2 separate regions of the Homo sapiens genome follow, and region 2 is linked to region 1. Evidence: fine-mapped expression QTL. A gene starts in region 1. The other region holds a variant in brackets. All regions are shown on one strand. Distances are between the middles of the regions. Region 1 holds the start of ATN1 (atrophin 1). Region 2 has its middle 5.9 kb from the start of LRRC23.

What was found. PIP is the estimated chance that this variant, and not a neighbour inherited with it, causes the effect. A credible set is the group of variants that fine-mapping cannot tell apart.
Region 2: its variant is the best candidate, but not a certain one, in a credible set for the expression of ATN1 in whole blood (Lepik 2017, PIP 0.72).

Annotation. Positions count from the first base shown.
Region 1 is chr12:6,924,625-6,929,994 of GRCh38, forward strand. ATN1 (atrophin 1) reads left to right here and starts at 3,335. Exons shown (of 10, transcript NM_001940.4): 1 at 3,335-3,760. LOC124902868 (a long non-coding RNA gene) reads right to left here and starts at 3,072. Exons shown (of 2, transcript XR_007063194.1): 1 at 2,903-3,072; 2 at 1-1,501. RefSeq lists enhancers at 1-519, 1,220-1,919 and silencers at 2,944-2,993, 3,174-3,333.
Region 2 is chr12:6,896,230-6,901,599 of GRCh38, forward strand. No RefSeq gene overlaps it. Among named protein-coding and RNA genes, the nearest start is that of LRRC23, 5.9 kb to the right of the region's middle. The variant T/C (reference allele first, on the strand shown) is at 2,885.

The sequences.
Region 1 (5,370 bases):
TTGCCCTCCTTCCCGGGTCCCTGACACCTCAGCCATTTTCAGTTCAAAGAGCCTCATGCCCCCTTTCCATTTCTGTGCCTTTTAGTTTCAGTGTGGGCATCTCATCTTTCCCTTTTCTCCTGGCGACCCTTTATGCCTCCCTTGGGGTTTCCTGTACTTTCCTCTGTGCCTCTCAGTTTTCTCTGGGGTCCCTGATACCCATCTTACCTTAGTAACTCCCAGACTGACCAGGACTATCCTAGTTTGAGCCTAGTTCCTAGCCTCTGTCCTTTCTTTCATCCCTCCTCACCAGGTCGCCTTCTCTGACAGTCTGGCCCCCCAACCCCCAAAGTATCGGGGTTGGATTGGGTTACAGCTAGCTCTGCCTGGGCCTCCCAGGCCCTTCTCTCCACTTTCCCTTTGTGCCGTTGCCTGGAGACCAATGGGTTGTGGGGGGCTGAGCCAGAGAGGGAGCTGGGGTGAGGGATGGCTGGGGCTGTGTGTGTGCGTGTGCGTGTGTGTGTGTGTGTGTGTGTGTGAGAGAGAGAGAGAGAGATGTCCCCTGCAGCTGGACTATAAGCCTGGCCCTCAGGTAGGGGAGGAATGGGAGAGGGTAGACAATGGTTTCTTTTGTGACTCTCACCATCCCCTATCCCCACATATGCCTAAATTTTTCTTTTAGTATCCATTGTAGCCCATTCCTTAGTGATTAAAAAACAAGGGAGAAGAGCTCAGCCTGGAAGGGATTTGGAAAGGGCTTGAGCCAAGGCCCAGTGGGAGACTGAACTGAGTGGTACAGAAAGAGAGGAAATGCCATGGGGAGAGAGGGTGAGAGGGAAAGGGGGAGCCCTGGAACAAAGTCAGGGGTGGGGAGGAGCAGCAGCTACCCTAGAGCAAGAGGAAGGGAGTCGGGGTGCACAGGGAGACAGGGAGCTGGCCTGGTCTCAGGGAGGCCCTGGGAGGAAGGTGTGCTTGGAGTGGTAAAGTGAGTGCCAACCAATTCAAGGGACTTCAGAGTGATGACTCATTCCCAGGCCAAGGAAGTGTTCCTGTTCCTGCGCCCAGTTCCCCAGTGCTCTGGAATCTTGTTTAGAGCTTTTGAGTATTCCCAGAACTTTGTTGAATCTGGCCCAAGGAATTGTGAGACAAAAATCTACTGAGCTGCTCCAGAGCTAACCTCCTTCCTTCCCTGAAGGCAGGTGGGATCTTGCCAATTCAGGGCCCACCCTTAGCCTCCAGCAAGACTGGCCCCACAAGTACCCGACCCCCACCCCAAATCTGGAGCTCTACTGAGGGCTCCTAATCCACACTCCAGCTCCAGCTCTTCCGGCTTGCCAGCCTGCCTCCCTCCCATTCTCTGGCCTTCCCAATTTCTGCTGCCAAAAATCACCCTGTGTCCTTTGTCCTGGGAGATGTTGCCGCTTGGTGGAGGGCCAGGAGGGAGCCCAGGAGAAGGAACTGGTGGTGGGCTGGCGGAGGTGCTGGCTTCACGGCCGGGAGCAGACTGACTGCCAGAGGCTACCTGGAGAGCAGGGGAGGGAGAGGAAGGGTTGGGAGGAGCCTGCAGTCTGTGGTGGGGACTGTCTCCACCTTAGAACAAGTGGGATTGAGCAACAAGGATACCCAGGGATTTGGGTCCACATTAAGCCCAGTCTTCACCCGACTGCTTCCCTGTGACCCAGGGGATCTTTAGTGATGACTTTCAACAGATTTGAGAAGGAAAATGGAGATGCCACTAGATGGAAGGCCTGAGGATGGTGTCTCACTCCTCCAAGCTGTATCCCTTACCTATCTACCCATGAGCTTGCCAGCAACCTCCCCCCGCTCCCACATCTGTCATTTCCTTTAACTGCCCTCGTTTCCCATCTCCATTTTTTCTTTTTTTTTTTGAGACGGCGTCTCGCTCTGTCTCCCAGGCTGGAGTGCAGTGGCGCGATCTCTGCTTGCTGAAACCTTTGCCTCCCAGGTTCAAGGATTCTCCTGCCTCAGCCTCTGAGTAGCTGGGATTACAGGCATGCGCCACCACACCCGGCTAATTTTTGTATTTTTAGTAGAGACGGGGTTTCGCCATGTTGGCCAGGCTGGTCTTGAACTCCTGACAAGTGACCCACCCGACTCAGCCTCCGAAAGTGCTGAGATTACAGGCGTGAGCCCCCGCACCGGCCCCATCTCCATTTTCTTTTCCCATCCATGATCTTTCCTCTTCCATACTGCCGCCAGCCATAGGCCTTGTTCAGCTTACATTTCCTTCCAATCTTCTTATCCCCCTCTTCCCCATTCTGCCCGCCCAAGTAAACCCTCCTCGGCTCTACTGGGAGCCCCCACCCCCAGGATCCAGCCAGCCCGGTGTCTCCCACCCTTCTTTCCCATCCAGAGCCCTCCTTTCTCACCCAGAACCTATTTTCCCTAGAATTGGCACCTGGGCCCACCTCGTTCATCCCTTCTTAAGGTTCCTCACGCGTTCCCTCCTCTCTCTCCTCACTGACGTTTCCTCTGGACTTCTCTCTCTCCAGCATTCCTTCATCCCCCCACCCCCAATTCTTATATTTATGACTCTTTTGTCAACACTAATCACCCCCAAAAGCTTTACTTTTTCCAGAAGCCCCATCTTTCTATATATGTCATCTTTTCAATTTTTCTCTCTCCTTATGACCCCAAACTTCCATCCCATTCTCTCTGATAATAGCCCCCAAACCCGTCTGGCTCCATCTCTGCCACAGATCCCTCACCCCAAGCTTCTCTCACTTCTCACCAGGCACCCACAAAGCCCCCAGGCAGCTCCATCTTTCCAATCCAATCCCATTATCCCAATCTCTACCCCAGGATCCCCCAAACTCCTCCCACTTCACCTCTGCCACAGACCCGCTCGCCCCCAAACTTCAGCCTCCCCTCATCTGCCCTCACCACCCACAGCCCCTCCTACCTAGCCCTCTCCCGCGCCGGGCCCGCGGGCTCCCCACATTCCGCCACGGCTAGCCCTCCCCGCGCCCCGGCCCCCTCGGCCTCGGCCTCGGCCAACTCGCGCTGCGCCTCCCCCTCTCCGGCTCCCCCTCTCTCCCCCCTCGCGGCTTGCCTCGCGCTCCCTCCCTCGCGTCTCCCTCCTGGCCCCTCTCTCCTCCGTTCCTCCGCGCTCCCTCCTTCTCCCTCTTCCTCCCTTCTCCCATCCCCCTCTCCCAGGCTCCCTCCCTTCGCCGTCCGCTTTCCTGTGCGAGTCGCCGGACGCACCGCCCAGCCCGTCCGCAGCCCCGCGCCGGGTCGGGGCCTCGGGCCGGGCCATTTCGGAGGGACCGCGGCTTCGGGGAGGGGCTAGGAGGGGGGAGAGGGAGCCGACTGCCGGGGAAGGGGCGGGGGCCGCGGGCGAGGCGGCCGAGGGGCCCGGGATCGCGCGGGTGCGGGCTGCGCTAGGCGGGCGCGGGCGGCGGCGGGTCGGAACCGCGCCGAGGGCCGGGCGGGCCGCGGGGCCGGGCGGCGCGGCGGGGGCGGGCGGCGCGGCCCGGGGCATTCCGGGCGGCCAGGGGGAGGCGGCGAGCCCGGGGAGGTGGGGAGCAGAGCGGGGATCGGGGTTTGCTCCGGGGGCCGGCGGGCGATTGGGGCCAGGCGGGGAAAAGGGGGGATGGGGGCCGCCCTCCGGGGGGGTCGGGGCCGCCGCCGCCGTCGTCGCGGCGGCGACTGAGGCCGAGAAGAGGAGAGGGGGGCGGGGGAGCTGCCGCCGCCGCCCCCCAGAGGCGCCGGAGCCCGGAATCCCGCTCGGAGCCAGCCAGCCGTCCCGAGCTACCAGCAGGTAAGGTCTGCGGCCGCCTGGGCCCCGGGCCCGCGGGGTTCTGTCCCGCCCGGGCTCCGGCCTGCGGCTCCCCACCCCCACCCCTCCCAGTTCCCCCTCCTGCCGCCGCCGCCTCCATTTGTTATTTTCCCAATCCCGTCCCCCCACTGCGGGCTCTGCCTGGCCTGAGGGCCGGGGGCTCAGGGGGTGGGGCCCGCCGAGGAGAGTCGGGGGCCAGGGTTTCGGGAGGATCGGGAAGGTGGGGAAGGAGGGAGGGTCTCCGGAGGAGGCCTGTGGGGCCAGAGGGTATCCGGGACCCGCAGACTCAAAAGAGGAGGAACATCGAGGCCGGGGTTGGCGGAGGAAAACGGGGGATGCTGTGAGTGGGGTTCCGGGCGAAGGCAGAATGGATAGGAGAGATGGCAGCGAGGTGGGGCATGAAGCCTCCAGGAAAAAGCTCCAAAGGACCAGAACACGGGTTCCGGAGCCTGGGGTTGGGGGCTTTAGGAATAGACGGGAAGTGGGAAACGGGAAAGGGGTGTGGTAGGTGGAAAGAGGGATTGTGGCTGATGAACCTGGGGGAGACGGAGGCTTGGGCAAAGAGAGGTCCATTTTTGAGAAGAGCCGGAGGTTTTCCAGCGTGGAAGAGGGAAGGCCATGTCTTTGTGACGGTTTTCATTCCCCTACTGCAGGTCACCTCTGACCCTGTTTTCCCTATCCCAGACATAGTTATTTCTTGGAGAGGGCACTGGGGCCCAGTAGTGTGGGTTATCCCAAAACTAGTGAGGAGGAAAACAGGAACACAGAAGGGGGAGTTGGGAAGAAAGGGGTTCTGGGAGGATGGAAATGGAGAATTGAGCAACCTTACAGGCACTCCAGGCAAGTTGCGACCTCCACCCTCCACCCTCCAATTTCCGGAGCGTCCGCTGCCCCTGGAGCTGTGATCTATATAGGGAGGCCTTAGTTACTGCTTTGAGCTCAAAGATCTCCCTTTGTGCATGGGCTTATTTTGACTAGGGTAGGTACCTTCAAGCTCCCTTACCTGAGGTGCTATAGGAGGGTAGGAGTTGCTTTGGCAACTGGGGTAGGGGGTAGCTGCCAGATGGACACCTGGGATGGTCTCTTGAGGGGCACCTTTTGCCACTGTGTTGCTATGGTAGTGATCCAGTGGGATGTCAGATTGGTTGGGGGGGCTTCGAATGTTTATTGGACCTCAGCCTGTGGCTGTCCTTGGGACTCTGGGCTGGGTTTTGGAGGTTGTTTCTGGATCTGTTGGTGGTTGGGAGTTTCCCCACGGTGTGCACCCTTTCATGTTGAAGTCTGTTGGAACAGGTAGATACGTTCCTTGCAGATCATAGGTGTTTCTCCAAGTCTCTCCACCTGGGCATGATGGGAGGATGAAAACGCTTCTGTTCAGGTTACACCATCTTTTGGCAGTTGGTTCTGACCTCTACCTCCCTTATTATGTTATTTTTTGTAGAGTTGTCTTTTTGCTTCTTTGCACTTTCTTTCATTTTCTAAAACTTGAATTCCTCTTTGAGCCTCCCTTCTTGAGTAACCCTTTTCCTCTTTCCCTCAACTAACCTTTGGCCTTCTTCCCTGACCTTGTAGAAATGGCTGGGCTCCCAGGC
Region 2 (5,370 bases), 28 kb before region 1:
TCTCAAAAAAAAAAAGAAATAATAAGGTGGCAGGATATATGATATATAGAGAAAAATCAATACTAAAATCAATAGTTATGACAGTATGACATTGGAGCAGCAGTAGACATAGAGATCAATGGAAGATAATAGGGTCCAGGAATAAAACCCATATATATGATAAAGATGGCATTTCAAGTCAGTAGAGAAGAATGGGATTAATCAATAAATGATGTAGAAAAAAATTGGCTCCCCTTTTGGCTCCCCTACCTCACACTATATACCAACCTATTCTAGATGTAATAAAGACCGAAAAATATTTAAATACCATCAAAATAGTCAAGAGAATATTTTCATAACCTTAGGGGTGAAAAAGGCTTTTCTGAACCAGACCCACAGTTCAGAAGCCTTATGCAAGAGACTGGCAGTTGGGACTACACACAAATGTCAAATTTCTGTAAGGTGACACTCTATAAGCAAAGTGAAATGACAAAGTAGGAAAATATTTTCAAAATGTATAAGAGACAAGAAGTTAATGTGTCTGTGTGGTGGTTTAAAAATATGTCCATGAATTCTGTGATACTCTTCCTTTTAAGAGGTGAGCCTTATTCCCCTCCACTTGAGTGTGGGCTGGACTTAGTGACTGGCGTCTAAAGAATAGCATAAAGTGGAAGTGATGGTGTGTGACTTTGGAGACTCAGTTAAAGGCAGAGTGGCTTTCATCTTGGTCTCTTTCTCTCTTGGATCACTTGCTCTGGGGGAAGCCAGCTGCCATGTTATGAGGGCACTCAGGCCCTGTGGAGAAGTCCAGATGGTAAGGAACTGTCTTGCCAACAACCATGTGAGTAAGCCATCTTGGAAGCAAATCCTTCAGCCCCAGCCAAGCCTTCAGATAACGGCAGCTCCAGCCAGCCGTTTGACTGGAACCCACCTGGGCCACTCTTGGATTCCTGAGAAACTGAGATAATACATTTTGCTGTTTTAAGCTGCTACGTTTTGAGATGATTTGTTATACAGCTATAATCAGTTAACAGTTGCACTTGGCTGGCTGGGCATGGTGGCTCATGCCTGTAACCCCAGCACTTTGGGAGGCCAAGGCAGGAGAATCGCTTGAGCCCAGGAGTTCCAGACCAGTCTCTGCAACATAGTGAGACTCCATCTTTACAAAAAAAAAGTTAAAAATTAGCTGGGCATGGTGGGGCGCACCTGCAGTCCCAGCTACTTAGGAGGCTGAAGTGGGAGGGTGGCACGTGCTTGTAATTCCAGCTACTCGGGAGGCTAAGGCACTAGAATCGCTTGAACCCAGGAAGCAGAGGTTGCAGTGAGCCGAGATCTTGCCATTTCACTCCAGCCTGGGTGACAGAGCAAGACTCCATCTCAAAAAAAAAAAAAAAAATCACCCTGTTAAGTATAAGCTCTGACAAATGCATAGTCCTATCATAATCAAGACATAGAACAATCGTAGAATCACTCTAACAGTTCCCTCAAGATCAAGATCAAGAAGTCAACCCCTTCTTGATCCCAAGGAACTCATTGACCTGTTTTTCTGTCAAAAGGGTCAAATTTAATCACTAAAATGATCTACAGTACTATGGAAAAATTTGTAAGCATAGAAAACACACAAACCAACTCTTTTTAAAAAGTAAGATATTTTAAAAGTTTACCATACCAACAGAATGAAGATAGCTTCACATTTTACTACAGATGTGCAGATATTCATCAAAGTCCACCATTGTCATATATATGGCTCAACAGTAATATTTAAGAATATACTGGCCAGGGCCGGGAGTGGTGGCTCACGCCTGTAATCCCAGCACTTTGGGAGGCTGAGGCGGGCGGATCATGAGGTCAGGAGATTGAGACCATCCTGGCCAACATGGTGAAATCCCATCTCTACTAAAAATAGAAAAATTAGCTGGGTGTGGTGGTGCGTGCCTGTAATCCCAGCTACTCAGGAGGCGGAGGCAGGAGAATCACTTGAACCAGGGAGTCGGAGGTTGTGGTGAGCCGAGATCACTCCACTGCACTCCAGCCTGGTGACAGAGCGAGACTCTGTCTCAAAAAGAAAAAGAAAAAATACTGGCCAGGCACGGTGGCTCATGCCTGTAATCCCAGCACTTTGGGAGGCTGAGGCGGGTGGATCACCTGAGGTCAGGAGTTCGAGACCAGCCTGGCCAACATGGTGAAACTCCATCTCTACTAAAAATACAAAAATCAACCAGGTGTGGCGTCACACACCTCTAATCCCAACTACTCGGGAGGCTGAGGCAGGAGAATCATTTGAACCCAGGAGGCGGAGGTTGCAGTGAGCTGAGATTGTGCCATTGCACTCCAGCCTGGGTGACAAGAGAGAAACTCTGTCTCAAAAAAAAAAAAAAAAAATACTGTAAAATAACAATCTTTAGAAGAGTTAGAATAATGTTATTTTTGTTTGTTTTTTTCGAGACAGGGTCTTGCTCTGTCATCCAGGCTGGAGTGCAGTGACGTAATCTTGGCTCACTGCAACCCCTGTCTCTCAGGTTCAAGAGATTCTTGTACATTAGCCACCCAAGTAGCTGGGATTACAGGTGTGTGCCACCATGCCAGCTAATTTATTTGTATTTATTTATTTATTTATTTATTTATTGAGACAGAGTCTTACTCTGTCACCCAGGCTGGAGTGCAGTGGCGTGATCTCAGCTTACTGCAATCTCTGCCTCCTGGGTTCAAGCGATTATCCTGCCTCAGCCTCCCAGTAGCTGGAATTACAGGCATGTGCCACCACCACACCCGGCTATTTTTTTTTTTTGGGGGGGGGGGTAGATATGGGGTTTTGCCATGTTGGCCAGGCTGGTCTCGAACTCCTGACCTCGTGATCTGCCCGCCTCAGCCTCCCCAAGTGCTGGGATTACTGTGTGAGTCACTG[T/C]GCCTGGCCAATTTTTGTATTTTAGTAGAGAAGGGGCTTCACCATTTTGGCCAGGCTGGTCTCAAACTCCTAAACTCAGATGATCAGCCCGCCTCAGCCTTACAAAGTGCTGGGATTACAGGCGTGAGCCACTGTACCCAGCCCTCAAAAGCTATTTTTTGACATATTAAGATTGGCAAAGTACGTACCATTTGACCCAGAAATTCTACCTTCTAAGAATGTACGCCGGGCACGGTGGCTCCTGCCTGTCTGTAATCCCAGCACTTTGGGAAGCTGAGGCGGGCAGATGGCTTCAGTCCAGGAGTTCAAGACTAGCCTGGGCAATATAGAGAAATACCCGTGTCTACAAAAATTGCAAAAAATTAGCTAGGCATGGTGACATGCGCCTGTAGTCCCAGCTACCTGGGAGGCTGAGTTAGGAGAATCACCTGAGCTTAGGATGTTGGGGCTGCAGTGAGCCATGATGATTGCACCACTGCACTCCAGCCTGGGAAAGAAAAAAAAAAGTTTCCCACATAGTCATATTACTCAATGCGTAGTCCATGAATCAAGAGCATCAGCATCACTTGAGAGGTCTACATTTCAATGAGATCCTCAAGCAATTTCTATACACGTTAACATTTGAGGAATACTGCTACAGAGTACTCATGCAGAAGAGCAAAGATATATCTATGGGGATTTAAACAGCGTTATTTGTAATATGGACAATTTTTAAAAAAAAGTTAATATCCATCAATAGGGAACAGTTAAAAGTCTAGCCAGGCTTGGTGGCACACAGCTGTAGTCCCAGCTACTTGAGATGCTGAGGCAGGTCGATGGCTTGAGCCCAGGAGTTTGAGGCTGTAGTGCACAATGATTGTGGGCAGGAAACAGGACCTCGACTTTGGACCAGATTCAAGACTGGCTGAAACAGGGAAGAGGCACAGAAAGCACTTCTCCGTAAGACACGCCCACCAGCACGACAGTTTACCATTGCCATGGCGACACCCAGAAGTTACTGCCTTTTTCCATAACAACCTGGAAGTTACCACCCCTTTTCTGGAAATTTCTGAATAACCCACTCTTTAATTTGCATGTAATTAAAAGTCAATATAAATGTGACTGCAGAAGTTTCCCTGAGTTGCTGCTCTCCACACACTGCCTAGAGGGTGGCCTTGCTCGGTAGGAGCAGTCATGGGGCTGTAAAACTGCATCCTCAATAAAGCTGTATCTTCTACCACATGCTCAGGAAAGAACCATGAGCCTTATTGGGCTAATCGCCAATTTGGGTGTTCACCTGCCCTGCATCAGTTGTGCCTGTGAAAAACTACTGCACTCCAGCTGTGACCGGTTGAGGGTAATTGTCCAGGTTCTTGGTGTTTTGCACAAAGAATTCGACAAAACACACAAACAAAGCAAGGCAATGAAAGCAGAGATTTTTTTTGTTTGTTTTTTTAATTACCGTGCCCGCGAGACGGAGTCTTGCTGTGTCGCCCAGGCTGGAGTGCAGTGGCACGATCTCGGCTCCTGGGTTCAAGCAATTCTCCTGCCTCAGCCTCCTGAGTAGCTGGGATTACAGGCTTGCACCACCACGCCCCGCTAATTTTTGTATTCTTAGTAGAGATGGGGTTTCACCATGTTGGCCAGGCTGATCTCCAACTCTTGACCTCTTGATCCACCAAAAGCAGAGATTTATTTTAAAGGAAAGTACAGTCCACAGAGTGGGAGCAAGCTCCAGCAAGTGGCTCAAGAGCATTGGTGACAGAATTTTCTGGGGTTTAAATACAATCTAGAGGTTTCCCATTGGTTCACCCTATGCAAATGAAGTAGTGGCCGACTGCCAGTCTAATTGTGGGAGGGGACCAATCAAAATGAAGAGAGTAGGCCTGCTATCAGTCTGACTGGTTGTGAGAGGGGACCAATCAGACGTACTTTCATTTTTCAAATGCCATACAGAGAAAGGAGGGTTTGAAAAGGGAGTACTCTCTGATATTCAGTCAGCATGATTCGGCCTTAGATTCCCTGCCTCCGGACCCTATTCTCCTGCCTCTCAGCCTGGACAATGTAGTGAGACTCTGTCTCTAGAAAAACACAAGAAAGTTCCGGGCGCGGTGGCTCACGCCTGTAATCCCAGCACTTTGGGAGGCCGAGGAGGGCAGATCACGAGGTCAGGAGATCGAGACGATCCTGGCTAACACAGTGAAACCCCGTCTCTACTAAAAATACAAAAAATTAGCCAGGTGTGGTGGTGGGCGCCTGTAGTCCCAGCTACTCTGGAGGCTGAGGCAGGAGAATGGCGTGAACCCGGGAGGTAGAGCTTGCAGTGAGCCGAGATCACGCCACTGCACTCCAGCCTGGGAGAGAGAGCCAGACTCCATCTCAAAAAAAAAAAAAACAACACCAAAAAAAAAAAAAAAAAAAGGAAAAACGCAAGAAAGAAAGGAAAGTGGTAGTATATCCACATAATGGAAGACTAGACAACTATGAGAAAAAGAGGTAGATTTATG